Linked DNA regions of Homo sapiens: regions 1, 2, 3, 4 and 5 are each reported to be linked to region 6. Evidence: microRNA targets listed by miRTarBase, many of them from high-throughput screens and not tested one by one. Region 6 holds a microRNA gene; each other region holds the end of a gene's coding sequence.
The links. The annotated mature microRNA hsa-miR-149-3p reads AGGGAGGGACGGGGGCUGUGC and lies in region 6 at 1,869-1,889, opposite strand. An mRNA with a match to its seed (bases 2 to 7 or 8) in the 3' UTR can be bound and repressed. Matches are read on the target gene's strand: a 7mer-m8 pairs with bases 2 to 8, a 7mer-A1 pairs with bases 2 to 7 and ends in A, and an 8mer does both.

Region 1: the mRNA of ZNF503 is a reported target of hsa-miR-149-3p. Seed matches in the 3' UTR shown: 8mer at 759-766.
Region 2: the mRNA of ZNF790 is a reported target of hsa-miR-149-3p. The part of its 3' UTR that is shown has no 7-base or 8-base seed match.
Region 3: miRTarBase lists CCDC80 as a target of hsa-miR-149-3p. Seed matches in the 3' UTR shown: 7mer-A1 at 2,527-2,533 and 7mer-A1 at 4,223-4,229.
Region 4: the mRNA of RASD1 is a reported target of hsa-miR-149-3p. Seed matches in the 3' UTR shown: 7mer-m8 at 952-958 and 8mer at 1,296-1,303.
Region 5: miRTarBase lists TMPPE as a target of hsa-miR-149-3p. Seed matches in the 3' UTR shown: 7mer-A1 at 1,253-1,259.

The regions. Positions count from the first base shown.
Region 1 is chr10:75,393,994-75,399,064 of GRCh38, reverse strand. ZNF503 (zinc finger protein 503) reads left to right here. Exons shown (of 2, transcript NM_032772.6): 2 at 1-1,235. The coding sequence ends at 316. It overlaps LOC124902461, which reads right to left. Exons shown (of 1, transcript XM_047426122.1): 1 at 808-5,071. The coding sequence starts at 2,909. The coding sequence ends at 1,944. Among named protein-coding and RNA genes, the nearest start is that of ZNF503-AS2, 5.0 kb to the left of the region's middle.
Region 2 is chr19:36,813,952-36,819,022 of GRCh38, reverse strand. It overlaps ZNF790 (zinc finger protein 790), which reads left to right. Exons shown (of 5, transcript NM_206894.4): 5 at 1-1,595. The coding sequence ends at 590. The region is part of intron 3 of ZNF790-AS1 (ZNF790 antisense RNA 1); the gene reads right to left. Among named protein-coding and RNA genes, the nearest start is that of ZNF790-AS1, 19 kb to the right of the region's middle.
Region 3 is chr3:112,600,746-112,605,816 of GRCh38, reverse strand. It overlaps CCDC80 (coiled-coil domain containing 80), which reads left to right. Exons shown (of 8, transcript NM_199511.3): 8 at 54-5,071. The coding sequence ends at 400. Among named protein-coding and RNA genes, the nearest start is that of CCDC80, 38 kb to the left of the region's middle. RefSeq lists an enhancer at 1,760-1,929.
Region 4 is chr17:17,490,900-17,495,970 of GRCh38, reverse strand. It overlaps RASD1 (ras related dexamethasone induced 1), which reads left to right. Exons shown (of 2, transcript NM_016084.5): 1 at 1-75; 2 at 287-1,534. The coding sequence ends at 846. MED9 (mediator complex subunit 9) reads right to left here. Exons shown (of 2, transcript NM_018019.3): 2 at 2,750-4,692. The coding sequence ends at 4,476. Among named protein-coding and RNA genes, the nearest start is that of RASD1, 3.0 kb to the left of the region's middle.
Region 5 is chr3:33,088,118-33,093,186 of GRCh38, reverse strand. It overlaps TMPPE (transmembrane protein with metallophosphoesterase domain), which reads left to right. Exons shown (of 2, transcript NM_001039770.3): 2 at 1-2,765. The coding sequence ends at 353. All of the region lies in intron 1 of GLB1 (galactosidase beta 1), which reads left to right. Among named protein-coding and RNA genes, the nearest start is that of GLB1, 6.5 kb to the left of the region's middle.
Region 6 is chr2:240,452,874-240,457,944 of GRCh38, reverse strand. MIR149 (microRNA 149) reads right to left here and starts at 1,944; the gene lies at 1,856-1,944. All of the region lies in intron 1 of GPC1 (glypican 1), which reads right to left. It overlaps GPC1-AS1 (GPC1 antisense RNA 1), which reads left to right and starts at 1,245. Exons shown (of 3, transcript NR_161169.1): 1 at 1,245-1,348. RefSeq lists enhancers at 1-41, 1,994-2,644.

The sequences.
Region 1 (5,071 bases), not on the chromosome of region 6:
TACGGCATTTCCCGGGACAGACAAACTGCTGTCGGGCTACCCCAGCTCGTCGTCTCTGGCCAGCGCTGCCGCGGCCGCCATGGCTTGCCACATGCACATCCCCACCTCGGGCGCACCGGGCAGCCCTGGGACGCTGGCGCTGCGCAGCCCCCACCACGCGCTGGGACTCAGCAGCCGCTACCACCCCTACTCCAAGAGCCCGCTTCCCACGCCTGGCGCCCCCGTGCCGGTGCCCGCCGCCACCGGACCGTACTACTCCCCCTACGCCCTCTACGGACAGAGACTGACCACCGCCTCGGCGCTGGGGTATCAGTGAGGGCGGCCGGGAGGGCGAGCGAGGGAGAGGAGGGAGAGGGGGAGGGGAGGAGTCCAGGGAGAGGCGGGATCACGGCCCAGGCTGCTGACACCCGCGCGTGGGGAGGACTCGGGCCACGAAAGGAAAGAAATGTATACCGTATCTATCTACCCGACAGCAGCGACCGAGACCCGGTGGGACACTCCCCTTCTCCCCACTTTCACCTCCCCACCCAAACTTTATAAAAGTTGAAAAAATATCATTTGACTTTTTATAGAAAAAAAAAGGAAAAAATAATTGAGAAAGTGTTCATCTGAGGACTGCATCGGTGGACACTGGTATTTATTTATGTTAGCTCCAAGCGGACCGGTGGTTCAAAAGTGCATTATTTAGTTTGAGCTCTGTAGGTAAAAAGGAGGTGGGAAAAATTTTAAAACTTGAGGGTAAAAATGTGGAAAACAAACCCTCCCATCCCTTGTAGATTATAAATAAAAGCAAAACCGCCACAGAACTAGAGGTCTTCTCTTTAATGTTACTTTAAAATTGCTATGATTGTATTGTACGTTATTTAATGTCTGATTGAAACACAAATTTACATGCATGTTTGTTACAAAAAAAATGAAAAAAAAAGTCACAATTTGTCAGCTCTGATTTCAAATTGCAATTATTTTTAAGGTGTATACCATCGAAGAGAATGGGTATTTTTTTGTATGTATTCTGGAAGAAAACAACAAAAAAAAAAAGAAAAAGAAAAAATTCTATTCCAAAACCTCATTTGCCTTATTTTGTTCTTTAAAAGGAACACTTAACTATTTTTAATTTTTAAGTCCACCCGCTGAGAAGGGGACAAGGTTTACGTCATGTACTAAAATAATAGACAATGTATCGCTTTAAAGATTAAAATTCCGTATATTTGATGTATTAAAGGGTTTTACTTCTTCTTCTTATCTTTTTTATTTTGGTTAAAGAGAGCATGGCAGTTTCGGCCGCAGTGGGTTCCGGGGCCTCACTGCTACTCCTTCTTCCCGGGACCGTGGCTGAATTTCCGATCGCTTTGTTGTGATTTTCTGGGAGGCAAAGGCGTCGGAAGGGGCTACCAGCCGCGAAGTTGGCCTTGGGGAACATATTTTTAGAGGATATTTCACCATTTGGAAAATAGTGTCCTCCGCTATCTATCATTTCGTTTTTATTTCAATTTTCTCTTGGCAGCTGGCTTGTTAAAAGTGAAAGGGGGTGTGGGGCGGGGGACAGGGTTTTTGTTAAATTTCCCTCCTGAGCTTTTTGGGCATTTGGGTTTCGTTTTGTGCAGAGTGGAGCAGGCCGGGACTCGCCGGCTGGGCCTGGGCCGGGGCCTCGGGGACGTGGGGCAGCGCGCTGGGGCAAGCCGAATAGACTGGGAGGCGGAGGGGCGCTGGGGGAACCTGTGTCCCGGGCCTGGGGGGAGTACGCAGGGACCCTCTGGTCCCTAGGGGAGAGTGCGTCCTCTTTTCTTCTTCTGGCTGCCCAGGGCCTTCTAAACGCTCCCCGCAACCCTCGCCCTCACCCCCACCCCCACCCGCCCGCTCCTTCCTCCCTCCAGAGTCGGGACCCGGGGCTGGCCGGCGCCACCGCTGCTTTTCCCCGTCCGGGTGGCTCTGCAGCCGGCGCTCTATTCCATTCCGCGCCGCAGGAGAGCCCGCCCGGCCAGGACCCGGAAAGCCCCTCCAAGTGCGGCCCCGCGAGCGTCCCGGCGCCCAGGTCCGGCCTTTCTGGGGCTACCAGGTGGGCACCTAGGGCTCCGCTCTGCAGAAGCGCGGCGGGAGTCTGGGTCCGGGCGCAGCTCCCTGTGGCGCGGGCCGCTGTCTTCTCCCCAGCTTGGGCCGCAGGACAGAGCTGCCCGAAGCGCCGAAGGAAGCACGCAGAAAAAAGTCTCAGTCCCTTTTGGGGGGAGGGGGGCCGAGACCCAGCGCCCCCTCCCAGACGCTCCAGGCCTGGGCGCTAGCCCAGGTCCTCCGGCTAGTTGGGAGCTCTGAGCCCAGAGCGCCCTTTCCAAGGATTCCGGGACCGTGGAGTCACAGCTCTGAGAGCGCACCCCAAACTCTCCGCTCCCTGGGGTCAGGCTCTTCCGGTTTCTCCGAGTCTCGGGATCCCCTCGGCGCTCAGGTACCCCTGTTGCCTCTGGGGACTCACGGCCGCGCGAAGTCAGCCTTTGGCCTCTCGCCTGCGTCCGACAGCCCGCGGCCCCTGCCGCCATTTGCACCGGGATTGGTGACTTTGAGATTTTCCACCCTCCTCCCAGCGCCAGCCTCACGGCTGCAGGGCCTTTACCCGGGTTGCACGCAAAGCCACCCCCAGCGACCTCCCGGACACTGCGGGAAGCGCGCGGGCCGCCTCCTGGAACTGACTTGGTGGGGACTCTGGCTCCGCCGCCGTCTCCACACCCCCGACCCTGATGTCCGGACGTCGCGAGACCCCAGGAAACGGAGCTGGCGCCGAGGAGGACCCCTGGCCCGCAGCGTCTTCGGACGCCGCGGCCCCGGTCCCACTCTGGTCCCGCCGAGAGAGGCTGAGCTGGGCCTGGTTCCTTGAGAATCCTGGCCGGCGGGCTTGTCGCCCCGGCCTCTTGGACAGACATCCCCCGCCCTGCAGGTGGGAGGGCGGGAGCGCGTGGCGGTGCTGCAGCCGGGGTCCCACGCTCCGGTGCCCGCAGCTCAGGACCTGAAAGCCAGGCGTCTACCACTCTCTCACCAGCAGCGGCCACGCGCTCCTGGCCACTGCGACCCACAGGCTGTGCCTCTTTTCCCTAGCGTCTTCGGACAGGGGTCCCTGAGCGACCACACCTTGCCGGCCCGGAAGGACCTAGACATTCCCCCGCCCTGGGATTCAGGCTTGGGACCAGCAGGGAGACGAACCCGGGACGTTCGTGCCTTCATGCCCCTTCTTGGTATTTTATCAACACAACCCAAAACCAAAGCCCCTTAAAAGTTTGATGAAACTCCTTCCGGGAGCAGCTACACAGAGGCAGCAGCGTTCCGGCGCTGGGGCGCCCGGGGGTGAGGACAGAAAGGATTCCCCGACGTGTTGGACGGATCCGAGTCACCCCGGGCGCGCGGTAAGTGAAGGGTGGGTGCCAGTATCTGCTGCGTGTCCAGGCCGAGGTGCGAGCCTCCTCGGAGGGACAAATGCCCCTCCCCAAGGCGCGCCCCCCGACTCTCTCCAGCTTTTTCCCGAACAGCCGCGGGATCCCCGGCGCGCCGGCTGGCGGCTGGAGCCCGGGCGGAGCGCCGCGTGTCCACCAGGCGGCGCTGCAGAGCCCGGCGGAGCAGGAAGGAGTCCTGGAACCCCGGCCAGCGCGCGGGCAGCCGGCTGGATGGGCATCCCGAGGCCCCGCGCTTCCACTTTCGCGTGGCTTTGGGAGCGGTGTCCAGGAGGCCCCTCCCTGTGACTCCTCGCTTCTTTTCTCCTGCTGCGAACCGTCTCCCCTGCTCTTCTCCACCCGCTCCAGCTTCTGCGCTTGTTTCCTCCTCGTTCTCTATTCCTGTCCAGAGGATTGGCCCACGTGTCTGTCCCTTCCCAACCTGGGGAGCTCCCACCCTCAAGGCTCTGATACGTCACCTTGTCTGCCATGCTGAAGCAGTCGCCACACAGGCCTGCATTCATTCACTCCCTCCTTCACTGATGATTTCCTAGCGCCCACTCCTTGCCAAGGGCTGCTCATCCCATTTACTCGTCCCTGACACAGTTTGAGAAACCGAGGCTAAGTCCTGGAGGCCAGTGGCAGGGCTGGCGGATAAGGCCCAGGCCTTTCCCCCACCATCCAATCTTATCCCCCTACCTGTGCCTCTGGTGGTGACACAGCGACCCTGGTGTCCTTGTGCTGGGTAACTCCGCATAGATGCAGATCAGGGAGGTGTGCCTCCGAGAGAGCTGCTGAAGAAGGACCAGCTTCTGAAATCTGCCACAAGCCTGTGGACCTCTGAGTAAGCACAACTAACACAAATGCAGATGCCTGTCAACACACGCACTCACTTGTTTCCACACTTTCACTCCTACTTCCACAGAAGCCACCCCCTGCTCTGACTCTGCCACACCTGGTCACGTGTGGCACACACTTATGCTCCGACAGCAGACAGGAGAAGGAAAGATGTGGGCTTGGTCTTTAAGCAGTGAGGAAAGGCAGATAAAAAAGCCCCACTAGGTGATGAACTTCTTGTGATTTAGAAAACTCATAAGGCTGCAGCTCCAGCAGCGCAATCGGTTAGCACACAGTACTTACACAGAAGACTCGTAAAAGTTGCCCAGAAGGTGGGACTTATCCCCTGTCAGGTCATCGGCTGGCCTCTGCTGCACGTATTGGCTTAGGGTTCCTCACCGAATGTGGCTAGCAGCCTGGTGGTGCTTAGAGTGACTGGAAAACCCAGGCTGACCTGCTCACATCTGTCACGGGCTATGCCCAGCCCATGGGATCCTGTATCATCCCACTTACACTTCACAACAGTTCCATGAGGTCATTAGAATCTTCACCCCATTACTAGACTTAATACCTGGATGATGAAATAATCTGTACAACACACCTCCATGACACAAGTTTACCCATGTAACAAACCTGCACTTGTACCCCTGAACTTAAAAGAATCTTCACCTCGTTTTTCAGATGAGGAGACTGAGGCTCAGCAGCGGAAAGACAGTGGCTTGAGGTACACAGCTAGTGAGAGATGGCTATAAGCAGGGATTCTCACCTTGGCTGCTCTTGCCTGATGAAGTTTTAAAGCAGAACAGTGCCTGGGAGCCAGAGAT
Region 2 (5,071 bases), not on the chromosome of region 6:
AGAAAATTCACAATGAGAGGAAATCCTATGAATGTAAGGAATGTGGAAAGACCTTTCTTCATGGCTCAGAGTTTAATCGACATCAGAAAATTCATACTGGTGAGAGAAACTATGAATGTAAGGAATGTGGAAAGACCTTTTTTCGTGGTTCAGAACTTAATCGACACCAGAAAATTCATACTGGAAAGAGGCCATATGAATGTGAAGAATGTGGAAAAGCCTTTCTCTGGGGTTCACAACTTACTCGACATCAGAGAATGCATACTGGTGAGGAACCTTACGTATGTAAAGAATGTGGGAAATCTTTTATCTGGGGTTCACAGCTTACACGACATAAGAAAATTCATACTGATGCAGAACCTTATGGATGCAAGAAAAGTAGCCACATCTTTAGTCACCATTCATATTTTACTGAACAAAAAATTCATAATAGTGCAAATCTCTGTGAATGGACAGACTATGGGAACACCTTTAGTCATGAGTCAAACTTTGCTCAACACCAGAATATTTACACTTTTGAGAAATCCTATGAATTTAAAGATTTTGAGAAAGCATTTTCTTCAAGCTCTCACTTCATTTCACTCTTGTGAAATATTATATAAAAGTGTAGGAAGGGCTTTATTCATGACTCATTAATTGATGTCATTTATTTTTTTCTCTTGAGGAACACCACAAATGTAAGTAATATTGGAAGGCATTTTAACAGAGCACACATCCAGCAGCAGCAGCAGCAGCAGCAGCAGAGAATTCATCATGCAATCAATATAGGAAAGAAATTACTGATCAGTTATCAATTGCAGAATATCAGGGTAAAATTTTATGAGATAGCATGAATTCTTTTTGAATCATTCTCAAAACATTCTCATCAGAGATGTTGCATAAAGAATTTATATATAATTTGGCCAAGCATGGTGGCTCACACCTGTTATCCTAGCACTTTGGGAAACAGAGGTGGGTGGATCACCTGAGGTCAGGGGTTCGAGACCAGCCTGACCAACATGGTGAAACCCTGTCTCTACTAAATATACAAAAATTAGCCGGGCGTGGTAGCACACGCCTGTAGTCCCAGCTACTCGGGAGGCCGAGGCATGAGAATTCCTTGAACCTGGGAGGTGGAGGTTGCAGTGAGCCAAGATCACATCACTGCACTCCAGCCTGGGTGATAGAACAAGACTCCATCTCAAAAACAAAAACCCACAAGAATTTATATATAATTCATTTTGGAAATCTTTCATCATTAGCAAAATTCTGTTGTATTTCCACAAAAATCATGTAATTAATCTAGAAAAGCCTTGAACTATGTCATACAATTTATTTGGCATGTCTTGTTTCAATACATCCTGCCTCTATTTTTTTTTTTTGGAAAGTATCTTAAATCTATGTCTGTTTAATCGTATTCATTAGATTATAAGGGTTGAATGATTTGAGATTTACATGACTTAGTGACTGTCATTTGTATTGGTATTAAGCCATTTTATGAGAGGAGGACTTTTAAGACTATAATGATTATAGACAAATATGTCATCTCTATTTATGTCTTACTGAACATCAGAATGTTAATTCTGAAAAAAAATCAGTAAAATACAATGAAGAAAGCTTTGAATATTAATTTCACATGCTACATCAAAAAAACCTATAAAAGAAAGCCTTATGACTTTAGTAAAAGTGGGGTTGTTGAGTGTTCAGCAGTTTTTTAAAAGACATTCAGAAATAACTTCTCTCTAACAAATTTCTAAAGCCAAGTGTTATATAATTCTTTACCACAGTTATAACTCAGAAACTAGCAAATGGATAGCCATATGGATTCTTACCTCTTTGAAATTTACTACTATATATAAACCATTCTTAGATTAAAGAGCAAATAAAAAGTGAAATTACAGAGTATTTAGAATGATAATGAGACCTATATTTTAAATCCTGTGAAATAACTAAAACAGTTATCAATAGAAATTGCTCTGTGTATAAAACCAAGAAGACTGAGGGCAGTTTGTTTCTCTTCATCACTGTATCCACAGCACTGTATCCACAGCACTTAGGACAGTGCCTATAATGTTGTAGGGCCTCAAATATTTATTGAGTTAAATAATGATTACACAGCAAGGTAGAATAAGAACAAATACCCCAAATGAATGAATGGAAAGGCTTAATGAAAAGCTGAAATCATGGAATAAAAAACCATACAGGTTTTTCATCAAAATCTAGTCCTTTGAAGAAAACTATTATTCATTAGACTTTGTCAGTGCCTCTACTATATTATAAGGAGAAATGGAATATAACTATATGTTTGGAGATATTTTTTAGTATTAAGTATGTGAACTCTGTTAGACATGATTTTTATATGTGTACGGTTTTTTTCTAGGAAAACATTATTAAATATGATTAAGTTTCAAAAACAACCCAAAAAGTTCAAAAAATAGAAAAAAGTATCATGTAAGATGAGGTTGAGCACAGTGGCTCATGCCTGTAATCCAAACACTCTGGGAGGTTGAGACAGGAGTATCACTTGAACCAGGAGTTCCAGACTTGCCTGGACAACATAGGGAGACCCCCATCTCTGCAAAAAATAAATTAGCCAGGTGTGGTGGCACATGCCTCTGGTCCCAGCTACTCAGGAGGCTGAGGTGAGAGGACTGCTTGGGCCCAGGAGTTTGAGGCTGCAGTAAGCTGTGATCACCCCACTGCACTGCAGTCGGTGATGGAGCAAGACCCTGTCTAAAACAAAACAAAACAAACATGTAAGACTAGAAAACTGTACAGGCTACACCCTGAAGAATAGAAAATCCTATGGAAAATTTGCCAGGGCATGCTAAAAGACTAACATTTTTATAATAAAAGTAGATGGGATAGCTCTTGAACATCAAATTCCAGAAAAATTTCACTCATGAAGATACATGAAAAAAACTTACATAGATGAACCCAATATTTAATCAAAGAATAATATAGTAGATATTTGCTTATAATGTTTAAGCTCTGAGCAGGATGGATAATTTTTATTTTTGAGGTGGAGTCTCACTCTAGTTGCCCAGGCTGGAGTGCAGTGGGGTGATCTTGGCTCATTACAATCTCTGCCTGCCAGGTTCAAATGATTCTCCTGCATCAGCCTCCCGAGTACCTGGGATTACAGGCACCCTCCACCATGCCTGGCTAATTTTTGTATTTTCAATAGAGATGGGGTTTCACCATGTTGGCCAGGCTGGTCTCGAGCTCCCGACCTCAGGTGATCCGCCCACCTCAGCCTCCCAAAGTGCCAGGATTACAGGTGTGAGCCACCGTGACCAGCCTGGATGGGTAATTCTGAATGATGAAAAGTTACTTTATCAATTTCTTCTAAGTGAAGTTCTTGGTATCTTTTAGTGTTACATGAGTTAAGAAATGGTGACTATATGTACACATATTTAGCACATTTTGTAAGTCACACCTTTAACAGGTAGTTCCCTCCTAAATTATTGTCATCTATGGAATTTCACAATTTGTGTGAAAAATAATTTTTTGTTATGTAACTGTATTGTAATAAGCCATTTTCATTCATGTTGACTAGATCTTTTTTAAGGTGACAAGTACACTGAGATGGAGTTTCACTCTGTTGCCAGGCTGGAGTGCGCTTGCACAATCTTGGCTCACTGCAACCTCCGCCTCCCGGGTTCAAGAGATTCTCCTGCCTCAGCCTCCCGAGAGGCTGGGACTACAGGCATGCGCCACCATGCCCAGCTAGTTTTTGTATTTTTAGTAGAGATGGGGTTTCCCCATGTTGGCCAGGATGATCTCGATCTCTTGACCTCGTGATCTGCCCGCCTCAGCCTCCCAAAGTGCTGGGATTACAGGCGTGAACCACCGCACCCAGCTATGTTTATACTTTCAAAAACAGTGGAAGGATAAGCCAAGACCTAATCAAAATGATGAAATAATAGGTGGGAGCAGGGTGTGGTGGTGCACGCCTGTAATCCCAGCTACTTGGGAGGACATGGTAGGAGGATCCCTCGAGCATAGGAGTTCAAGTCCAACCTGGGCAACATAGCAAAACCCCTGTCTCTTAAGAAAAATTAAAATACAAACTATAGGTGGGAGAGAGCAAGGTTGGAAAGTAGTCACCTTTGATTTTACCTTGTTTTTATCTGAGAATCATTTTATAACCTCACAGTAAAGAATATTTCCTAGACAAAACATTTTAACTAGAAAAGTGTGGCATATTCATATTAATTTTATTATTCTGTTAACTGAAAGTCACCAGTAACAGAATGAACAGATGTCTGCTTCTGATCAAATGGAGAAACAGACCAGATTTACCCTTATATCTGTAAATACTAAAAAGCTAAACGAAATAGGTGAAACAATGGTTTTTAAGACATTGAATATACTAAAATGTCAATTTCCAATGAAGAACAGTGATCCCTGAAAAAAACAGAAATAAATTTTTCCTAGTTTTTCCAGATTACTGCTGGGAGGAGTAACTCAGGCAGAGCCTGGTGGTCTCCTAGTGTTTAGATAGAATGAGGAGTCTGATGAGGCCAAAGTGGCCCGAGTTGACAAGGCAAAACACTGAAGAGGAGAGAACTGCACGGAAATCTCCAGAGGATCTTCCTTTAAGTTCAGCTAAATATTCATCAACACGTGCGTGTGTGAAAACTACCTGAAGCCAGGGAAAAACAATTACCTTAAAGGATTAGAGGGAAGAATCCACAGAGCTCAAAAACGTCCAGGAATAATTCCTTTTCCCAGTAGCCAAAGTGGAAAATAAAAAATTACTAGGCATCAGCTGGGTGCGGTGGCTCGAGCCTGTAATTCCAGCACTTCGGGAGGCTGAGGCGGGTGGATCACCTGAGGTCAGGAGTTCGAGACCAGCCTGATCAACATGGTGAAACCCCGTCTCTACTAAAAATACCAAAAAAAAAAACCCGCCAGGTCTGTAATCCCAGCTACTCAGGAGGCTGAGGCAGGAGAATCACTTGAACCCGGGAGACAGAGGTTGCAGTGAGCTGAGATCGCACCACTGCACTCCAGCCTGGGCGACAGAGCGAGACTCCAGTTCAAAAAAATAAATAAAAATTAAAAAATAAAATAAAATAAAAAATTT
Region 3 (5,071 bases), not on the chromosome of region 6:
ATGGGCTCTGACTGTTTAATCTACTAACAATAACTATTCCAATGTTATTCTAGGGAGCTCTGTTGTTGAGCGAGAAGACGTACCAGCCCATTTGGTGAAAGACATTCGTAACTATTTTCAAGTGAGCCCGGAGTACTTCTCCATGCTTCTAGTCGGAAAAGACGGAAATGTCAAATCCTGGTATCCTTCCCCAATGTGGTCCATGGTGATTGTGTACGATTTAATTGATTCGATGCAACTTCGGAGACAGGAAATGGCGATTCAGCAGTCACTGGGGATGCGCTGCCCAGAAGATGAGTATGCAGGCTATGGTTACCATAGTTACCACCAAGGATACCAGGATGGTTACCAGGATGACTACCGTCATCATGAGAGTTATCACCATGGATACCCTTACTGAGCAGAAATATGTAACCTTAGACTCAGCCAGTTTCCTCTGCAGCTGCTAAAACTACATGTGGCCAGCTCCATTCTTCCACACTGCGTACTACATTTCCTGCCTTTTTCTTTCAGTGTTTTTCTAAGACTAAATAAATAGCAAACTTTCACCTATTCATGAGTTATTATTGAAACCTCAAATCATAAAGACATTTAAAAGAATTGTTTTTCTAACTGGAGGGGCTCTAGTGCTAAATAATAGTACTGAAAATTGATATTATTTTCCTTTTCTTATATGAAGGACCTTATTTGGCATATAAAATTTTATAAAATATGTATTTAAAGCTTTTTCTTATTTTTTGTATTAATTGGTAAGTGAAAACTCTGTTAAAGATCACACCACAATGTTTTCAAGAAACATCTGAAAAGATAAAACAAAGAACAAATAACTTATAATACTTACTTAAATTGACACTTTTTGAAATGCCAGTCTGAAAATAATTAAGATATCTCTGCTTTGTATGAGTTTCTTTTATGAAACTTGATACCACGGGAGTCCAGTAATATTGGCCACAAAAGCCAGAGAAAGTACCAAGCCCAGCTTTGTTATCATAGCCACTTCCTGCCCTGCTTCTGTTATTTTTAGTGTTTTTTCAGATATAAATCGGGGTCCAGGAAATCCTCACCAGAATCTGGCACTGCAGCCAAAGGCGATACTTCCAGAGTTCTAGTAGGCTGCTATGGAATTTCTGGCATGAAAATTCTTGACCCCTCACACTTTACCCCCTGTACAGCACAGGCATACCATGGAGATATTACAGGATCAGTTCCAGACCACCATAATAAAGTGGATATCGCAATAAAGTGAGTCACACAAAATTTTTGGTTTCTCAGTGCATATAAAAGTTATGTTTACACTCTTTAGTAGTCTATTAAGTGTATAATAGCTTTATGTCCAAAAAATGTACATGTTTTATTTTAAAAATACTTTATTGCTAAAAATTGCTAATGATCATAATCTTTTTGCATTGATGTTGATGGCTGCTGAATGATCAGGGTGGTGGTTACTGAAGGTTGGGGGTGATGGTGGCAATTTCTTAAAATAAGACAGCAATGAAGTTTGCCACTTCGATTGACTTTTTCTTCATGAAAGATTTCTCTGCAGCATGTGATGCTGTATGATAGCATTTTACCAGTAGTACAACTTCTTTTGAAATTGGAGCCAATCCTCTCAAACCCTGTTGCTGCTTTATTAATGAAATTTATGTAATGTTGTAAATCCTTTGTTGTCATTTCAATAATGTACATAGCAACTTACGCGAGTAGATTCCATCTCAAGAAATCACTTTCTTCGTTCATTCATAAGAAGCAAGTCTTCATCTATTAAACTTTTGTAATGAGATTGCAGCAATTCAGTCACATCTTCAGGCTCCACTTCTAATTCCAGTTCTCTTGCTATTTCCACTATGTCTATAGCAGAGCTTCCTCCAATGAAGTCTTGGGCCTCTTAAAATCATCCATGAGGGATGGAATCAGTTTCCGAACTCATTGATCTTCCTATTTTGACCTTCTCCCATGAATCACGATGTTCTTAACAGCATCTAGAATGGTGAATCCTTTCCAGGTTTTTAATTTGCTTTGCCCAGATCCATTAGCGGGATCACAATCTGTGACAGTTATAGTCTTACGAAAAGTGCAAATGACTCCTTGATTCCTGTGCTGCACAATAGGTATTGTGTTAGCAGGCACGAAAATATTAATCTCCTTGTATATCTCTATCCAAGTTCTTGGGTGACTGGGTATATTGTCAGTGAACAGCTATATATATATATATTATAGTGGTCTGGAACTGATCATTTATATATATATTTTATATACATATATAAAATATATAATATATATTATATATATATATATTTTTTTCGAGATGGAGTCTCGCTCTGTCACCCAGGCTGGAGTGCAGTGGTGCGATCTTGGCTCACTGCAACCTCTGCCTCCGGGGTTCAAGTGATTCTCCTGCCTCAGACCCCTGAGTAGCTGGATTTACAGGCGCCCACCACTACACCCAGCTTATTTTTGTATTTTTAGTAGAGATGGGGTTTCACCATGTTAGTCAGGGTGGTCTCGAACTACTGACTTTGGCCTCGGCCTCCCAAAGTGCTGGGATTACAGGCATGAGCCACTGCGCCCGGCCCGAACAGCAATATTTTTAAAAGATTCTTTTTTTTTCTGAGCAGTAAGACTCAAAAAGTGAGCTTAAAATGTCCAGTAAACCATGCTGTCCATAGACATGCTGTCATTCAGGCTTTGTTGCTCCATTTATAGAGCACAGGCAGATTAGATTTAGCATAATTCTGAAAAGTCGTAGGATTTGGGGAAATGGTAAATGAGCATTGATTTCAACTTAAAATCACCAGCTGCGTTAACTTCTAACAAGGAGTAAGCCTGTTGGTTGAAGCTTTGAAGTGAGGCATTGACTACTCCTCTCTAGATACGTAAGTCTGAGATGGCATCTTCTTCCAATATAAGGCTGTTTCATCTCTTTTGAAAATCTATTGTTTAGTGTAGCCACTTTCATTAATTATCTTAACTAGATCTTCTGGATAACTTACTGCAGCTTCTACATCAACATTTGCTGCTTTACTTTGCACTTTTATGGATGCACAAGGCTTCTTTTCTTCAAACTCATGAACCAGACTCTGCTACCTTCAAACTTTTTTTCTGAAGCTTCCTCACCTCCCTTTAGCTTTCATAGAATTGAAGAGAGTTAGGGCCTTGCTCTGAACTAGGCTTTGGCTTAAGGGAATTTTGTGGCTGGCTTGATCTTCTATTCAGATGACTCAAAGTTTCTCCATATCAGCAGTAAGGCTGTTTTACTTTTTTATCATTCATGCATTCACAAAGTAGCACTTTTAATTTCCTTCAAGAACTTTTCCTTTGCATTTACAACTTGGTTGTTTGGCATAAGAGGCTTAGCTTTCAGCCTGTCTCAGCTTTTGACACACCTTCCTCACTAAGCTTATTCATTTCTAGCTTTTGATTTAAAGTGAAAGATTGCAACTTCCTCTCACTTGAAATACCTGGAGGCTATTTTAGGGTTATTAATTGATCTACTTTCAATATTGTGTCTCAGGGACTAAGGAGGCCTGAGAAGAAGGAGAAAGATTGGAGAAAGGTTGGTTGTTGGAGCAATCAGAACATACACACATTTATTAAGTTTACTGTGTTATATAAGTGTGGTTCATGGTGCCCCCAGTAATTATAATAGCAACATCAAAGATCGTTGACTACAGATTTTAATAACAGAGATAATAATGAAACAGTGTGAAATATGGCAAGAATTACCAAAATGTGACACAGAGACATAAAGTGAGTACATACTATTGCAAAAATGATGTCAACAGACTTCCTTGATGCAGGGTTGCCACAAACCTTCAATTTGTAAAAAATGCAGTATCTGAGAAGTATAATAAAATAAGATGTGCCTGTACTTACTTGCTAATGGACCTATTACCATACTGGCATCTTATAAAAAAAATTACAAGGAAGGAGATTATATCCAGGGATTCTTTTTGTTTTCAAGGCAAAGGTTACCAAGTTACAATGGACCAAAGTAGCTGGAATGCAAAGGAGTATAATCCTTGTCTTTGAAAAAAGAGCATTTGTTTCAATCATATGGCATATCAAAGTAAACTTTCTCCCTTCCTCCCTCCTTTCGTTGCTGCTGCTTCTTTTTTTTCTCTTTTTTTTTTTCTTTTTTTGGAGAGGGTCTCACTCTGTCACCCAGGCTGCAGTGCAGTAGTGCAATCTTGGCTCACTGCAAACTCAGCTTCCCTCAAACAATCCTCCCACCTCAGCATCCCAAGTTAGCTGGGACCACAGCCATGCTCCACCATGCCCAGCCATCCTTGCTTCTTTACTACATTTCTTTTTTCAACAAATATTTATCAAGTAATATTGTCAAGTAATATTTATGAGCTTCCCCTCAGATAGGCATTTAGCATCATGATGGCACCATCCTCTAACAATAATGGGAAGGCTATTTTCCACTGTTATTAATCATTAATTCTCCAAATCATTTTAGTATTATTATTAATTCTAATAAGTACAGAGATTAATAAATGCATTCAAACCACATGTGAATATTTGCTATAGGTTTATCTGTGCCTACTGTATGTTCAGATTTTTCTTTATATCTGAACTTTGTTATAAATAAATGACAGTAAAAATGGAATTTATAGTTCAATGAACTTGACAAATCACTTATTCTGCCATTCATTTTCCATAAAGACCATTCATTCTTCCTTGTTTTACAGGTAACTGAGCTCCAGAAAGCTCAAGTGACTTTAGAACTCAGTTCTTAGTGTGTGAATTATGCTCCCATCTCATCCCTCTTCCTTGATGGAGCACTTTCCTCCTCATTTTTTCTTGGATAGTCTGTACAAGCTGCCTGAGGTGTGCAGGAAAGTGAGCCACGTCGAAGTGTACTGCTTTTAAATTTTTGCCAGGATGAAGCATAGCCCAAAGTTGCCAATAAAAATGGATTTCTTTACCTTTCTGAAATTGTGTGATGACAATTTCTAAGTAAAGGACCCAAATCATGTCAACTTCAGGAAATATAATAATGAGGGAGCCAGGAGCAGTGAGGGGCTCACACCTGTAATCCCAGCACTTTGGGAGGCCAAGGTGAGCG
Region 4 (5,071 bases), not on the chromosome of region 6:
TCTACCAGCTCGACATCCTCGACACGTCCGGCAACCACCCGTTCCCCGCCATGCGGCGCCTCTCCATCCTCACAGGTGAGCCGGGGGCCGGGCAGGTGCGGGAGGGAAGGGCGGGGAACCCTCGGCCAGGGCGCCCCGCGAGCGCCGGTCCGGCTGCCGCGCGCCGAGTAGTGCGCTTCGCGCTTAGAGAGGCTAGCGCGCCCCGCGCGGCCTCAAAGTCAGCCCGACTTGTCCCCTGGGCGGCCACCCTCACCTTCTCCTTTTCTGCTCTCTGTGCCCCCTCTAGGAGACGTTTTCATCCTGGTGTTCAGTCTGGACAACCGCGACTCCTTCGAGGAGGTGCAGCGGCTCAGGCAGCAGATCCTCGACACCAAGTCTTGCCTCAAGAACAAAACCAAGGAGAACGTGGACGTGCCCCTGGTCATCTGCGGCAACAAGGGTGACCGCGACTTCTACCGCGAGGTGGACCAGCGCGAGATCGAGCAGCTGGTGGGCGACGACCCCCAGCGCTGCGCCTACTTCGAGATCTCGGCCAAGAAGAACAGCAGCCTGGACCAGATGTTCCGCGCGCTCTTCGCCATGGCCAAGCTGCCCAGCGAGATGAGCCCAGACCTGCACCGCAAGGTCTCGGTGCAGTACTGCGACGTGCTGCACAAGAAGGCGCTGCGGAACAAGAAGCTGCTGCGGGCCGGCAGCGGCGGCGGCGGCGGCGACCCGGGCGACGCCTTTGGCATCGTGGCACCCTTCGCGCGCCGGCCCAGCGTACACAGCGACCTCATGTACATCCGCGAGAAGGCCAGCGCCGGCAGCCAGGCCAAGGACAAGGAGCGCTGCGTCATCAGCTAGGAGCCCCGCCGCGCTGGCGACACAACCTAAGGAGGACCTTTTTGTTAAGTCAAATCCAACGGCCCGGTGCGCCCCAGGCCGGGAGCGCGCGCGGACTGGCGTCTCCCCTCCCGGCGATCCGCCCCCAGCACTGGGGAGGCGCCACTGAACCGAGAAGGGACGGTCATCTGCTCCGGAAGGAAAGAGAACGGGCCAAGACTGGGACTATTCCCCACCCCCGGTCCCCCATTGAGGCCCGCCACCCCCATAACTTTGGGAGCGAGGGCCCAGCCGAGGGTGGATTTATCTTCTCAAAGACCTAAGAGTGAGCGCGGGGTGGGGGAGGGATGTGAAGTTATCCAGCCTCTGCTAGGCTTCAAGAAACCGTCATGCCCGCTTGAGGGTCAGGACCCACGGGGCATTATCTTGTCTGTGATTCCGGGTTGCTGTGACAGCCGGTAGAGCCTCTGCCCTCCCAAAACTAAGCGGGGGGGCGTGGGTCAAATCATAGCCAAGTGACTTGTTTACATGTGAGTGAAACTGCACAAAGGAACACAAAACAAAACTTGCACTTTAACGGTAGTTCCGGTGTCAACATGGACACGAACAAAACCTTACCCAGGTGTTTATACTGTGTGTGTCTGAGGTCTTTAAAGTTATTGCTTTATTTGGTTTTTTAATATACAATAAAATAATTTAAAATGGAAAACCGGTTTTTTTTTTTTTTTTTTTGCTTTTAGAGATGGCTGGAGTGGGGAAGGGTGGGGAGAAGGAAAGGGCTGGGCTTTGACTTAGGTGGAACTAGAACTTACCTTCCCCAGAACTGGAAAATAACCCTGGCCTTCTGAAGGCAGCTTCAGCTGCCAGAAAAGCCCCAGATGCCTGGGGCATCTATGTAGGGGATGGTTCCCTAGAAAACCGGGAAGAATATAAAGGATTTCAGGGTCCCCCCTGGAGATGAACTCTTTCTAGCCATCCACCCGCTTAATTTTCTTTGGGTTAGATGACAAAAGGCCTCATTTTCTGAGAGAATGTTCTGAATTCTTCAGCGTAAAAGCCACTGGAACTGTGCCTAACCATTTTGTCACCAGACTCAGTGTGGGCCCAGGCAAACTTTCGGACTGTTGGAGGCATCAGTCAGGCCCTGGGGAAAGAGCCTGAGACCCCATCTGGAAACAGGACCATCCTGGCGCGCCCCCACCACCCGCTCACTCCAGGGTGCCACCCTGTCTGGAAACAGCTAACTCCTCAGCCTCTGCTCCCCTCTAGCTCCAGGAAGTGCTCCTGGCCAGGTGTAGAGCCCCATCCCCCTTCAGCCTTGCTGTCTCCGTCTCATGGCTAAGGCACCCCAGAACACCAATCTCTCTGCCACTAGTACTGCAAACCTGTTGGTGGGTGACACCTGCCAAGCCTCTAATTCTTCACCCCGGGAAGAGAGAACACCCTCGGCATGGGCTCACTGTGGGGATTAAGTGTGATGTTTGAAAAGTACTTAGCATAAATGCCGGCCACCCAGTAATCCAAGTAATTGGTGGCTTTCAGAGGACGCTCAGCCCTGTGAGAGACACTCAAAATTGTCCTAGAAGGATTTCAACCCTGCTCTGGTGAGGGCGGCTCCCCACAGGACTGAACCTCCTCGAGTCACCAAAAGGCACCCCCCACCTCCCCCCTCCAAAAATAAAAGGCAACTAAGGACAGCCCAGGGATGACCCGCCAGGCAAACTGCCCTTGAGGCCAGCCGGGAGAGGAGTTCCTGTTCCACACTGGTTCAGCGGGTGTGTGTGCTGGGGCGGGTGTGTGTGCTGGGGCGGAGGGAGTGAGGAGCAGAGGTGTGGTTGTGTCTGAAGAGACTGAGAGAAACATTTTCCTCTCAACTATCTGAGAGCCATCCCACTATGAATTTCTCAGTACAAAAAGCATTATGTCCTGAGACAGCAGAGCATAAGTCCTTTTAATTATGTGTTTGAAAAATGTCACAAGTCAAAAAAGGAACACAAGGCAGGCTCCGGCTCCCTCCACCCCCGTGAGGAGCCCTTGTCCATTTCAGCCTTGCACTCAGAAAGACCCCGGGGGTCTTGTAGTTCCACGTGCTTCATGTTTCGTGGTATCTGTCAGAGCCTTAAAACAGGCCCACCCACTACTGTGAAATTTCAAGGAAATAACTGATTCAGTTAAATAACAGTCCCAAGGTAGACCTGGTCTCACAGGTGACCACCCGCTTAAATCCAGAGCCTTCTTTTCTGTCCAAAGCCACTGAAATTTGATCTCCTCCTTCACACATTCCCAGGTCCCCAATATGCCACCCACCTTCTGACAGGTGGCTACAGGTCTACACTAATGGAAGCTCTGCTAAAAACATCTCCACCCAACCCTCCTGCCAACGAGGTCAGCTGGCAGGCATCTGCTAAGCCCCTAAACTGGTCAGCGCAGGTTATGCGCCCATTCCGAGACCCAAACAATACTCCAGGACTTCGCACCTCCTCCTCGAGAGGCAACGGAGAGAACTGCTCTTACTTCAATCTGACAGTCAAGGGAGAGCACACAAATAAAACGTCCCATCTGGAAGAAATCAGGGAAGCTGGGGAAATGAGGCTGTTCATCAACTTTTAAGAGCTCAAACTTGGCTGTGTAACTTTCAGACCTAGCTTATGGTTGGGGACCACCTGAACTGGCCCCCAGGGTTGCCTCTCTCTCAACACAAGGTGCATACTGAACCCTTCTGCAGTGTAGTACACGTTGCTGCCGCAAGTGCAAAGGCCACGAGGGAAAGACCTTTTAACCAGAGCAAGGGGAATCTGAAATGCCAGAAGGGGGAAGGTCGGTTCGCCTGAAGACCTCTTCTGGCCTGTGTGGAAAGGACGGCCCCTTGTCAACCCTGGGGAAGCACTGCAGATGTGAAGCGGTTTGGCCACTCTTGGGCACTGACTGAGGGTGATGAACGAGGAAGGGAGCAAGAGCTGAAGGCGAGGAGAGCGCTAGGAGGCAGGGAACCTGGAGCCAGGGGCTGCCTGGCAGGGCTCTAGGCTGAAGCCCCCAAAGCGTAGTTCCCTTCACTGGCTCAAACATAAAAGGAACCAAACTGTTTGGGGAAAAAGGCCACCCTCTGGCCTTTCAAAACATTCTCTCACAATTCTATGCCATATGAGTGCAGGCTTAATTCGTCCAGTGAATTCTATGCAAATGTTTCAAGAAGCTGCTGTTAACAGGAACAATGTGTACCTGGTACACACTGATCCTATGGGGGTGGGAGGAGAGAGAGGGAAGGAAGCAAAGAGGAGCCGCCTCCCTTCCTACTGTGCTCTTCAGATCTGTCAGTGGGGCCGGGCGCAGCAGATGGCCCCCTCCCCAGAGGCAGGGGAGAGTCCTCCACCCCCTCTGCAGCCTCCAGGAGCATTCTGACTTCCACCAGCAGGCACTCCAGTTATTATGCATCTAGACATATGGATCTACACGAGGAACCCCCGGCGCAGCCAAGCTCTGCGCTGGCTCCCGCACAGGCGAAGCGCGCGCAGCAGCACAGGAGCCCCGCCCCTGCAGCTTGACGAGCTGAGCTGGGGTCCACAGGAACCACGCCCCAAGGAGCGTTTGGGGATGGTAGTGGGGAGACAGGCCATTGGCTTCCCCCTCTTTCTAAGGAAGTCAGCCTCACTCTACTCCTTGGGGATTTCGAACATGCAGAGGCTCTTGTACTTTTGCAGAAGCTCATTCTTGGTCCTGACTTGCTCCCGGAGGCTCTGCAGCTGCTGCTGCTGCTGTTCGGGGCTCAGGTGGATGCCGGGCATGGTGCTGATGAGCTTGCGCATCTCCTGGAACTTGCTTTTGAGGGCGTTCAGGTCCTGGTGGACCTCCGGGCTGTCCTTGTCCATGCTGTGGGGGAAGAACAGCTGTTAGCATTCACAGCTTGATACACGTCTTGGCGTTCCTGCCCTGCACCCCCTAGAGCTGGCTGTCATTCCTGCCATAGCTTTTAGAACACTTCGTTTTATGTGTCTATCCCCTGACTAGGCTGTCCACCCCCAGAGGGCAGGGACGGGTTCTTTTTTAGGCAGCTGGCACAGAGCTCCCAGGCCTAGCACACTTGCAGATCACACACAGACACTCTTGATCTTCTGTCAAGTCAACTGTCACTCTGAGGTCAAGGACCATGTCTGCCTGGTCACAGGTGTCTCCCTACCCCCGGCCCAGTGTGTAGGTCACTACAGGCACTCAAGAAATGTCCGTGGAAAGAATGAATGCTTAGCAAATA
Region 5 (5,069 bases), not on the chromosome of region 6:
TTGAAGCAGACATCCTGCACTACTCTGGCCATGGCATGGATCTTGACAAGGCCCTGGAGGGCTGCAGCCCAGACCACACAATCATCTTGCTAGCTCACCAGCCCCTGGCTGCCAAGAGAGCTCTCCAGGCTCGGCCAGATATTAACCTGATCCTTTCTGGGCACACACATGCTGGGCAGATCTTCCCCTTGAACGTAGCAGCCTATCTCCTGAATCCCTTCTTTGCTGGTCTCTACCAGGTGGCCCAGGCTACATTCGTGTATGTCAGCCCAGGCACAGCCTACTACGGGATACCCATGAGGCTGGGTAGCAGGGCCGAGATCACAGAGCTCATCCTGCAGCGGTCTCCCTGAACTGGCCCTGCCCTGTGCACCTCTGCCCTGCCCTTGTCCTCGACCCTCCATCCTGCTTCAGAGTGGTTTGCCTGCTTTTCCCCTCCAGCCTTGCCCACTCATCCTTGCCTACACACCCTTGGTCACAAGCCTGACTCAAACAGTGACTTATGGTGGGCCTGCCTGGCATGTTCAGGCTGGTTTAACTATTTCCTTGGCCAGTTGCTTTTTTTGATGCACTTGTGAGATCACTAAGGTCACATATATTAGCACTCCCCTCTATTTTCCAGATGATGTGGAATGGGGACCTTCTCCTGCAGAGCTCCCAGGGATGAACCTCCCCTCGGGGTTGCTAGAAAGGCATACCTCTAGAAGGTGGGGCGGGGAGGAGCAGGAGCATTTTTCTCCTGGTGTTTTAAAATTGTCTTTAGGACTTAAGTGGTTTCCAGAATCATTGATCCAGAGCCTTTCTGGGGAAGGGGTAGTGTTGCCAGGTAATTTGGGAGAACAGGCAAGATGGAAGGGCCCTCTGGCTGCTAGAGAAGAATATTTTCTTTTCCTCTGATTCTATCAGGATCACCTCTATTGAGGGCATCAGCAAAATCTACTGGAATGCAAAGCTCCTCCTGTTCCAGGCCTTGAGGGATGCTATTTAACTGTCTGTGCTCCTGGGCCTTTGGGGGCAAGGTCAGGGGAGAAGAACGGTGGGCGCCATGGTCGGTGATGGTGAGAACATGGCTGCTTAGGAATTCAGAGGGCTTTGCCTCCCTTGTCTCATTTTATACAACCCTTCGGGGAGCTCACTGGGGACAGGCTGCTTTTCCCTATTTGGAGATAAGGAAACCAAGGCAAAGAGAGATAGGGCACAGGCAGTATGACAAGATATGTAGGAGATTTGGGGCTAGAAACCAGGTCTTGTACCTCCCAGTAAAAGCGGTGCTTTTGCCCTTTTGCCAGAAGCAATAGATCCTTTGATCCTGAGATGGAGATAAGCACCCGTGTTAGAAAAGGCCTCACTGAGAAGACAGGGCTGGGCTGGTTTCCTGCTGGGTGATTTAGGCTTGTGATGGAAAGTCTTCCTCCAATGGGGAGTGAAGACACTCGCTCTGACTGGAGAGGCTAACCCTGCTGCTCACTCATAGGGCAGCGTTGGGTGGGTGACTTTCCCTCACTCAGCCTTGGTTTCCATCAACCCTAAAATGGGGATAATTATCGTATCTACCTCAAGATTGTTTTGTCAGGAGGGATCCATCAAGCCTTGTGCATGAGTTCCACATGGCACAGCGTGCACAGTAAACACTCAATGTTAATTTTTCAACGTTCCAGTGGAGCTTGCTAAGGAACTCTGTTGGGCACAGGTGCCCAGAGGATTCATGGAGCAGCCAGTCCTGGGGAATGTGAGTGGGTAGCGAGCTGCCTGCTGCTGGGGCAGGTGATGTGTCAAAGCAGCAACTGCTAGGGGTTTGCCTTCCTTCCCTCATGTGCATTCTGGCAGGCAAAGGGGGTTTCTTCCTTTCCTCCTTGTCCTCCTGGTGTATAGTGGGGTTCTGGGGGATCTGGAGACCACCCTTTTTGTTCCCAGGCAGCCACGGTATTGACAGTGGGCCATACCATGCAGTTTAAAATGTATCTTTGAGTTGAAATTTTGGTGGTTTCCTTATTCTTTTTTCTCTCTTCACTGTCCTTCCAAACTCACTTTTCTTGTGTCCCGACCGCATTTTGTGAATCATCCTTACTCCCTTTAAGTTCTCGCTTTGGATTTCACCAGGTGGGCTAGATGGTGCCATTTCACTTCCACTGTTTGATGCGGCTGGTAATGTTTGACTCACCTGTTACGTGTTATTTCACTGGTTTCTTGATTTTACATCTTTCTCATCAGTGACCTGGGCTTGATGAAATTAGCTTTCATTAAGTCCTATTTTTTTTTTAATTTTGCATCCTTACCTCTTTTCTTTCTCTTGAATGCCATCATTGTGTGGTCTTATGTACCCTTCATCCACTCTGAAGTCCTTGCTTGACTGATTGCTTTCTATTAGCAGAAAGAAAACAGGTCCATCCTATGTATCTGAGAAACAACATCAACACCCTCTCGTATGTGGTTTGTATTCCCTGACGCGGCGGACATTTTTGCAGCAGAAATTTCTCCATCACTGTCCAGATTCTGGCCCTGGTGGGCAGGTCTCCATGACACCTTTAGTCCCTTTGTTCAACATTCTTAAACCATGGACCTTTTTGTTTGTTTGTGGCCGGGGGAGGTGGTGAGAAACGTTACTTGAAGCTTGATCATTCTTTCAATTTCATTTGTTTCTTTATTTTTAATCTGTTAGATGCAAATTGAAATGCAATGCTTTTTGAAAATCAGCAATAGTGTCTGTAGTATATGATGCTGTCACAAAATCTCAATAAATTGATCCTGCTGCCATTCCTTCCAAATACCCATCCATGCTTTTCTTCCCCTCGTGTTTTGTTTGGTTTGTTTTAAACTTTTCGTACATGTACCTCTCTCCCAGCTTTAACAAGCATGACGAGACCACTCTGCCATCCTTTCTCAGCTACCCCTGCCCCACCTGTACTCTTTATTTTTTGGCTGGAGTATATTAAGGTAAATCATAGAAAACATAATGTTACCCCAAAATTACTTCAGTATGAATCCTTTTTCAAAAAGCATAGCTATAGTGTCATTATCATATCCAATGAAATTAACAGTGATTCTTGAATATCATCTAATAGCTAGTTAGGAGATTTGGGGCTAGTAGCCAGATTTTTGACCTCTTTAAAGAAGTGTTCTTTCCACTCTCTGAGTATTAAGTAGCTGTATCTGTCACAAATGAGTACAGAATTCAAATGCAGTTAACTGTGTGAAGAGTTAGTGTTTAGTTTTTCCTGATTATCTCAACTATATTTTTTATTGTGGCAAAAAAATTACTATCTTAACCATTTTTTTTGTTCTTTTTGTTGTTGTTGATCTTAACCATTTTTAAGTGAATAGTTCAACAGTGTTAGGTATATTCACATTGTTGTGAAATTGATCTAATTGATCTGTAGAACTTTTTCATCTTGCAAATCTATATACCCATTGAGCAACAAGGCTCCATTTCCCCCTTCCTCCAGCCCCTGGTGACCACAATTCTACTTTCTGTTTCTATGAATTTGACTGCTTTAGATACCTCGTATAAGTGAAATCATGCAGTTTTTGTCTTTTTGTGGCGGGCTTATTTCAGTTAGTATAATGACCTTAAGGTTGTGGCACGTGACTGGATTTCTGTCCTTTTTAAGGCTGGACTACAGTAATACTCTTGTATTTTCATGCCACATTTTGTTTATCCATGTTGAGCATGTTTTCATGGGCTTGTTGGCCACCTGTATACCTTCTTTGGAGAAATGTCTATTCAAGTCCTTTGCCTATCTTTAAATCAGGTTATTTAATTTATTGTTGTGGAGATGTAGGAGTTCTTTATATATTCTGGACATTAACCCCTTATCAGATACGTAATTTGCAGATATTTTCTTCAGTTCTGTACATTGCCTTTTCACTGATTGTGACCTTTGATGCACAGAGTTTTAAAGTTTAATGCAGGCCCATTTCTCTATTTTTGCTTTTATTTTGGCATCATATCCAAGAAATCATTGCCAAGTTCAATATCACGTAGCTTTTTTCCCCATGTTTTCTTCTAGGAGTGTTATAGTTTTGGGTCTTACGTTTAGGTCTTTAACCCATATTGAATTAATTTTTGTGTATGGTATAAGATAAGGGTCCAACTTCATTCTCTTGCCTGTGAATATCCAGTTTTCCCAGCACTGTTTTCTGAAGAAATTGTCCTTTTCTAACATCAAGAGATCTTGGCATCTTTGTTGAAAATCATTTGACCATATACACAAGAGTTTGTTTCTTGGTGTTCTATCCTCTCATTGCTCTATGTCTGTCTTTATGTCATTACCATGCTATTCTGATTACCACAGCTTTGCAATATGTTTTGAAATCAGGAGGTATGAGTCTTTCAACTTTGCTCTTCTTTTTCAAGACTTTAGTCTATTTGGTGTCTGTTGAGATTCCATATGAATTTTAGGATAAATTTTTCTATTTCTGCAAGAAATGCTATTGGGATTTTTATAGGGATTGTGTTGAATCTGTGAATCACTTTGGGTAGTATGAACATCTTAACAATATGAACCTTCCACTCCATGAACATAGGATGTTTTTTCCATTTGTTTGTGTCTTCTTTAATTTCTTTTTAACAGTGTTTTGTAGTTTTCAGTGTAGTCTTTCACCTTAGTTAGGCCTATTTCTAAGTATTTTATTCTTTTTGATGCTTTTATATATGGAATTTTTTGAAATTCCATTTAGGATTGTTCATTTTTAGTGTATAGAGAAGCAACTGATTTTGGTATGTTGCTTTTTGTATCCTGCAACTTTGCTGAATTCATTTATTAGTTCTAACAGTTTGTGTGTGTGTGTGTGTGTGTGTGTGTGTGTGTGTGTGTGTGTAGTCTTTAGGGTTTCCTACATCTAAGATTATATCATCTGTGAATCGATCATTTTACTTCTCCTTTCTAATTTGAATGCCTTTTATTTCTTTCTTGCCTAGTTGCTCTGACTAGGACTTCCAAAACTATGTTGAGTAGAAGTGGCAAAAACAGACATCTTGCCTTTTTCCTGATCTTAGAGGAAAAGCTTGCAGTCTTTCACTATTGAATATGATGTTAGCTATGGGCTCTTCACATGTGGGCTTTATGATG
Region 6 (5,071 bases):
CCTGGCTTGGTCAGAGGGGTGGGGTCAAGGGGGGGCGTTGTCAGCAGGAATTCCAGCAACTTTCCTCAGGACTGCCGCCTCAGGGGCCTGTCTCATCCTGTTCTGGGACCCTGGGCCAGGGTGGCTGGAATGCAGCAGGTCCTGCATTCTTTTACGCCCTCCTGAGGGTCAGCAGGAAGTGAAGGCCAGGCCAGGGAGGAGAGGCAGGAGAGGGAGCCAGGACCGGGACCGAGGGCGGGGTCAGCCCGGGCAGAGGCACCTGGCTCGAGGCTGTCCTGGGGGAGCTGGCAGCAGCTCCAGCCCTGCCTGGAGGTGGGAGCAGGGATCTGTAGCCCCACTGCAGGCAGGGCCTGGAGCAGCGCAGGCAGTGCCCTACCCGCTTACTGCAAGAGAAGTCACCCCTCAGGCCTGGGGTCCAGGAAGCCCTTACCCACTAGAGGCCATCTGGGGTGGGGACCCAGGACTAGGTAACTACCCAGAGGTTGAATGCCTGGGTCAGACTGAGTTTGCTGATCTTCCGCACCCTCTAAGTACACACACTCAGGGAGGAGCCCGAGACAAGAGAAGGGAACAGAGAACCCGAATCCGGGCTTGGGCGGCTGCCGCTTGGCCCCTGTAGCCTCTGTGCCTGCTGACATGACAGCAAGGAGACAGGTTGTCAGAGGGGCCTGGGAGAGCGAGGGAGGGCCGAGGTAGGGGTTCTTATCCTGGAGCGCTCCCTCCTTGCCCTCTTTTCCTGTCTGAGTTCTGGAATGTACTGATGCAGGGGGCTCTGGCTTGAGCTAGAGGGGGAGGGAGTCCTCCGCAGGGGCTGCAGGTCCAGGGATTCCCCAGGGCCTGGACTTACATGTGCCCATGCTGCAGACAGAGCGGGAATGGCAAGTGCACCTGCGCCCCCCGCCCCTCCTTACCTCCAGATGCCTGCTGGAGGGGGAGTTGGGGGTCCAACAGAGTCTGGGGCCAGGAGGGCCTTGTGGGAGCCAGCTGGGGTGAGGACAGAGCCCGGCTCTGAGAGCCCTGGGGCCTAGTAGAGAAGGGGTGCTCCTTCCCCACTCCTCACATGGGTGGGAAGGCGCCCTCAGGCAAGAAGACTGGGACACAGGTACACTCGCCAGGGACCATCCTTCACTCTGCAGCCTTTATTCACTGATGGGATTCTGCCCCAGTCCCACCCCCGTGGGGGCAGGATTTAGAGCAGGAACCGCCCCTCCGGGTCCTTTCCTGGGGCCTGTGCCAGGCTGAGCAGACTCAGGAGGCGTCTCTCCGAGGGTGTGGGCTGTGATGGGGCCCTGTGCACCCATCCAGGCTGCCCAGACCAGGAGAGCACAGGTCAGCCGGACACATGATGGTAATGGGCTGGGCAGTGGGAGGGAAACGTGCCTGGGGGAGGGGGTGGCAGGTGCCAGCTGAGCTTCCCGGTGACACACCCTGGGCTCAGCTGAGATGGGCTCAGCTGTGACGGGGCACCCAGGCCAGGCTGGCTGGGCCACAGGAACCGAGTGAGCTGGTCCAAGACTCAGGACTAGGGCTCAAGCACTCCTAGGGAGGAGGGTGGGTGGCGTCCCCCGCCGGCTCCTCCTGTGCCCCTCCCTCGCGAGGTCCCGGCGGACCCACTCCCCAGCCCCCACCACGCAGACGGGAGAGGCTGACGAGAGGCATGGAGAGGTGAGGCCCGAAACACCCGTAAGATATGGGAGCTCCCCCCACCTGCAGGTTCTGAGGGGCTCCTCGGCGCCGTCAGCCACCTCTCACACCCCCTCACGGCCGCGCACCGGCCCCCGCGCCTCAGCCTCCCCCGCCGACCCCTCAGCCCCGCCCGGCCAACTCGCCCAGCCGGCCCGGCGACCTGCGTTGTTCCAGCTGCCCCAGCACAGCCCCCGTCCCTCCCTCCCTCCTCGGACAAGCACGGGAGTGAAGACACGGAGCCAGAGCTCGGGCGCCGGCCTGGGAGCCCCCGGCAGGCTGGACGCAAGGCGGGCGAAGGCCTGGGAGCCTCGGGCAGGCTGGATCGAGGCGGCCCCCTGAGGCCCGCTGCAGGCTGGACGCACGGCAGTCAAAGGCAGGAGGCCTCCCGCTGGCTTCCTTCTGCGGAGCTCCGGCCCGGCGCAGGCCGGGGCCACAGGTTGTGGTCCTGGACATGAGATGGCAGAGGCCGGCTCTGCAGAGTCCCCCTGCAGGGCGGCAAAGCAAGCCCCCTCCTGGAAGAATGCCAGGGGCTGGGGCCTTTCTGAATGGAGAGCAATGTGCCCAAGACCAGCTGTCATCTTAAATCTCCCCACCCAGGGGCCTCCCCACCCCCAGGGGCCTCCCCACCACTTCTCTCAGCTCAACACCTGGGGATAGAGAGGCCTCAGGCCAGGAGGGAACCCTCCCCATGTCCCTCTCCCTCTCCTTCCTGGCCTTTCTCCTCCTCCAACCCAGAGGGAGGCATTTTCCAACCTAGGGGGTGAGTCCCGGCAGCCCATCCCCTTCCCCCCGTGCAGGGAGGCATCTGGGCCCTTCCGGCCCACCCCTCCCTCTGGCCCTGGGGCTGCTCAGGTCAAGGTCACCGGGCCTGCTCCCCGCTGGGCCAGGGACTGGACCCTCTCTTCCCTGATCCCTGGGCTGAAGTTGCTGTAGCCGACCCATCCTTCCACAGCGCTCCCCTCCCTCAGTCACTGGGACACTTCCCTTCCCCAGTGCTCTGAGGATTTTTTTGGGGGGGAAGGGGATTATTTGTTTAATGGCAGATTCATCCCCCACCTCAAACCCAGAGTCTCCAGTTCCCAGGCTCCTGCTCCTCAGGTTAAAGCACAGAGCTCTTGCTCCCTGGCTCGTAGGCAGCTGCTGTCTCGTTCCATCTTCCCCCTCCCGATCCTGACGGTTCTGGACCACCCCACTCTGCTGCTCCTCACTAAGCCCCCACCAGCCTTAACTTTGGATACCTTTTAGGTCATGCATTCTCGTCCCCTGCTGACATGTCCCCACCCCGCAGTTTCCTCTTGGTCATCAGCACCTTCACCCCAAAGCTTTAGGCGAGACTCCCATCCTGACAGTGGCCCCCATCCCCAATGATGGACCCAGACCTCATTTGTCCAGACCCAGCCTGGCAGCTGCCCGTGACCAGTGGCTCTGGAGCCCTCCCAAGGAGAATGCAGAGAGATGATGGCGCCACGCCACGCCCATCCCTCCAGAAGCTTCCACGGCTCACACAGGAGGTGCAGACTGTAAAGCCGGCTTTATCCACCTTTACAGCCTCGTCCTAGACACTCAGTGTCAACAGACTCGAATGCCTAAGGTACCGGAATTTGGCGTGGACAGTCAGCCTGCATTGCCTCCCACGGTGCTGGAGTAGGGCTGTGTGCAGAGCTCCAGGCACCGCAGCCCCCCAACACGCAAGGGAAGAGCCTAGGCCTCCCCGCTCCTGCCCTCTACTCAGCTCTGCACCCGGCAACGGGGCCTTCCTGGCTGGCCGATGGCTGCGAAGGCTTTCCCCAAGCCCGAACCCTCTTCTCGAAGCCTGCCCCAGCCCCTGGCCCATCTGCTCTCGGACCCCAACCAGCTCCGGTGGCTGTGGCATCCTCCGGCACGTCCAGCAGCCTCCTGGGGTGAGGGTGCACTGGACAAACGACCCAGGGGGTTTCCTGGGGACCACCCACTGCCCAGGCTGCAGAGGATCTTTTCCTCACTTTTGCCCCATCCTCTAAGAAGCCTGCGCCCCTGGCCAGTCCCTGTCCGCCTGGGCTCCTGACGTCTGAGCCAGAGGCAGCCTTGGCCCCACCTGCGAGGTGGACCGGCCACGGCATCTCAGCTCCTCGTCAACGGCATCCACGGCCCCCAGACTCACCCCATCGTGCTTCCCTCCCCTCCCCACACCCCTGCCGTCTGCCCGAAGCCCCCCCGCCACCATTTCACCCAAATGACAGCGTCGCCAAGGAGCCCCTCCGCCGCCGCAGAACCTCCGCCGCGCACTGCGACCCGAAACCGAGGGGCGTCGTAGGGACACCTCTGCCCCGGGTGGGAGGGTCCGCGCCCCAGGCCGGCTAAGGCTCCTGTCACCCGCGGCTGCTTGCGAGGGCGACAGGCGTGAAACCGGCCCCGGCGGCGGAACAAAGGCTCGGCGGCACCGGCGGCAGCGTCGCCGCCCTGGGGGTCCCGGGCGCCCCGATGCCAGTCGCCAGCCGCCGCGGCCAGGGACGAAGACGGCAAACCGCGCAGCCGGAGCGGGTGCGCAGGGGTCTGGACACGCAGCAGCGCCGGCGGCCCGGCGAGGAGGGGGCACTGGTGCAGTGGGCGCGGCGGGGAGGGAAGGGGGCGGGCGGGGAGAGGGGGCTGCGGCGGGCAGGCGAGGGGAGGGGGGCGCCGCGATTGGCGGGGAAGGGGCTTGTCGCAGCGGGTGCGGCAGGCACGGGGGTGGGGGAGGGGGCTCGAAGGGCTGCGACGGCCCGGGGAGGGGGATGGGCCTGGCGGAAGAGGAAGGGGGGCCCCGGGGCGGCGGCAGGCGATGCGGGAGCGGGGCGGGCGGAGGGAGCGGGGCGGGCGGAGGGAGCGGGGCGGGCGGAGGGAGCGGGGCGGGCGGAGGGAGCGGGGCGGGCGGAGGGAGCGGGGCGGGCGGTGGGAGCGGGGCGGGCGGTGGGAGCGGGGCGGGCGGTGGGAGCGGGGCGGGGACGCCGGGATGCGGCCCGGGAGGGGTAGGGGTAGGTGCAGCTGGGGCGACGGGTGGGGTGGGACTGGGGACGGGCCACGGACTCCCGACAGGAGGGGCGGAAAGGGGATGGGGCTGCGGCGGCCAAGCGGGGCAGGACGGAGCGGAGGATGGGACAGAGGCGGTGGGGACGAGGAGCGGGTGGAGATGGGGGTGGCGCGCCTGCGGATGCGGGTACGGTGGCGCTGCGGGAGAGGTCCTCGGGCCTGGCTTCCAGCGCGGCGGCGGACGCGGGACCCCCTTCGCAGCGGCGGCTCCAGCGGCTCCGGGCGGCGCGCGGGCTCTGGGTGCAGGTGCTCGGGCCGGGGAAAGGCGGCGGAGCGGGGCCGGGCGGAAGGGCTCGCAGGAGGCGAAAAGCCAGCGGGGGACGAGGGCGGGCTGCGGTCC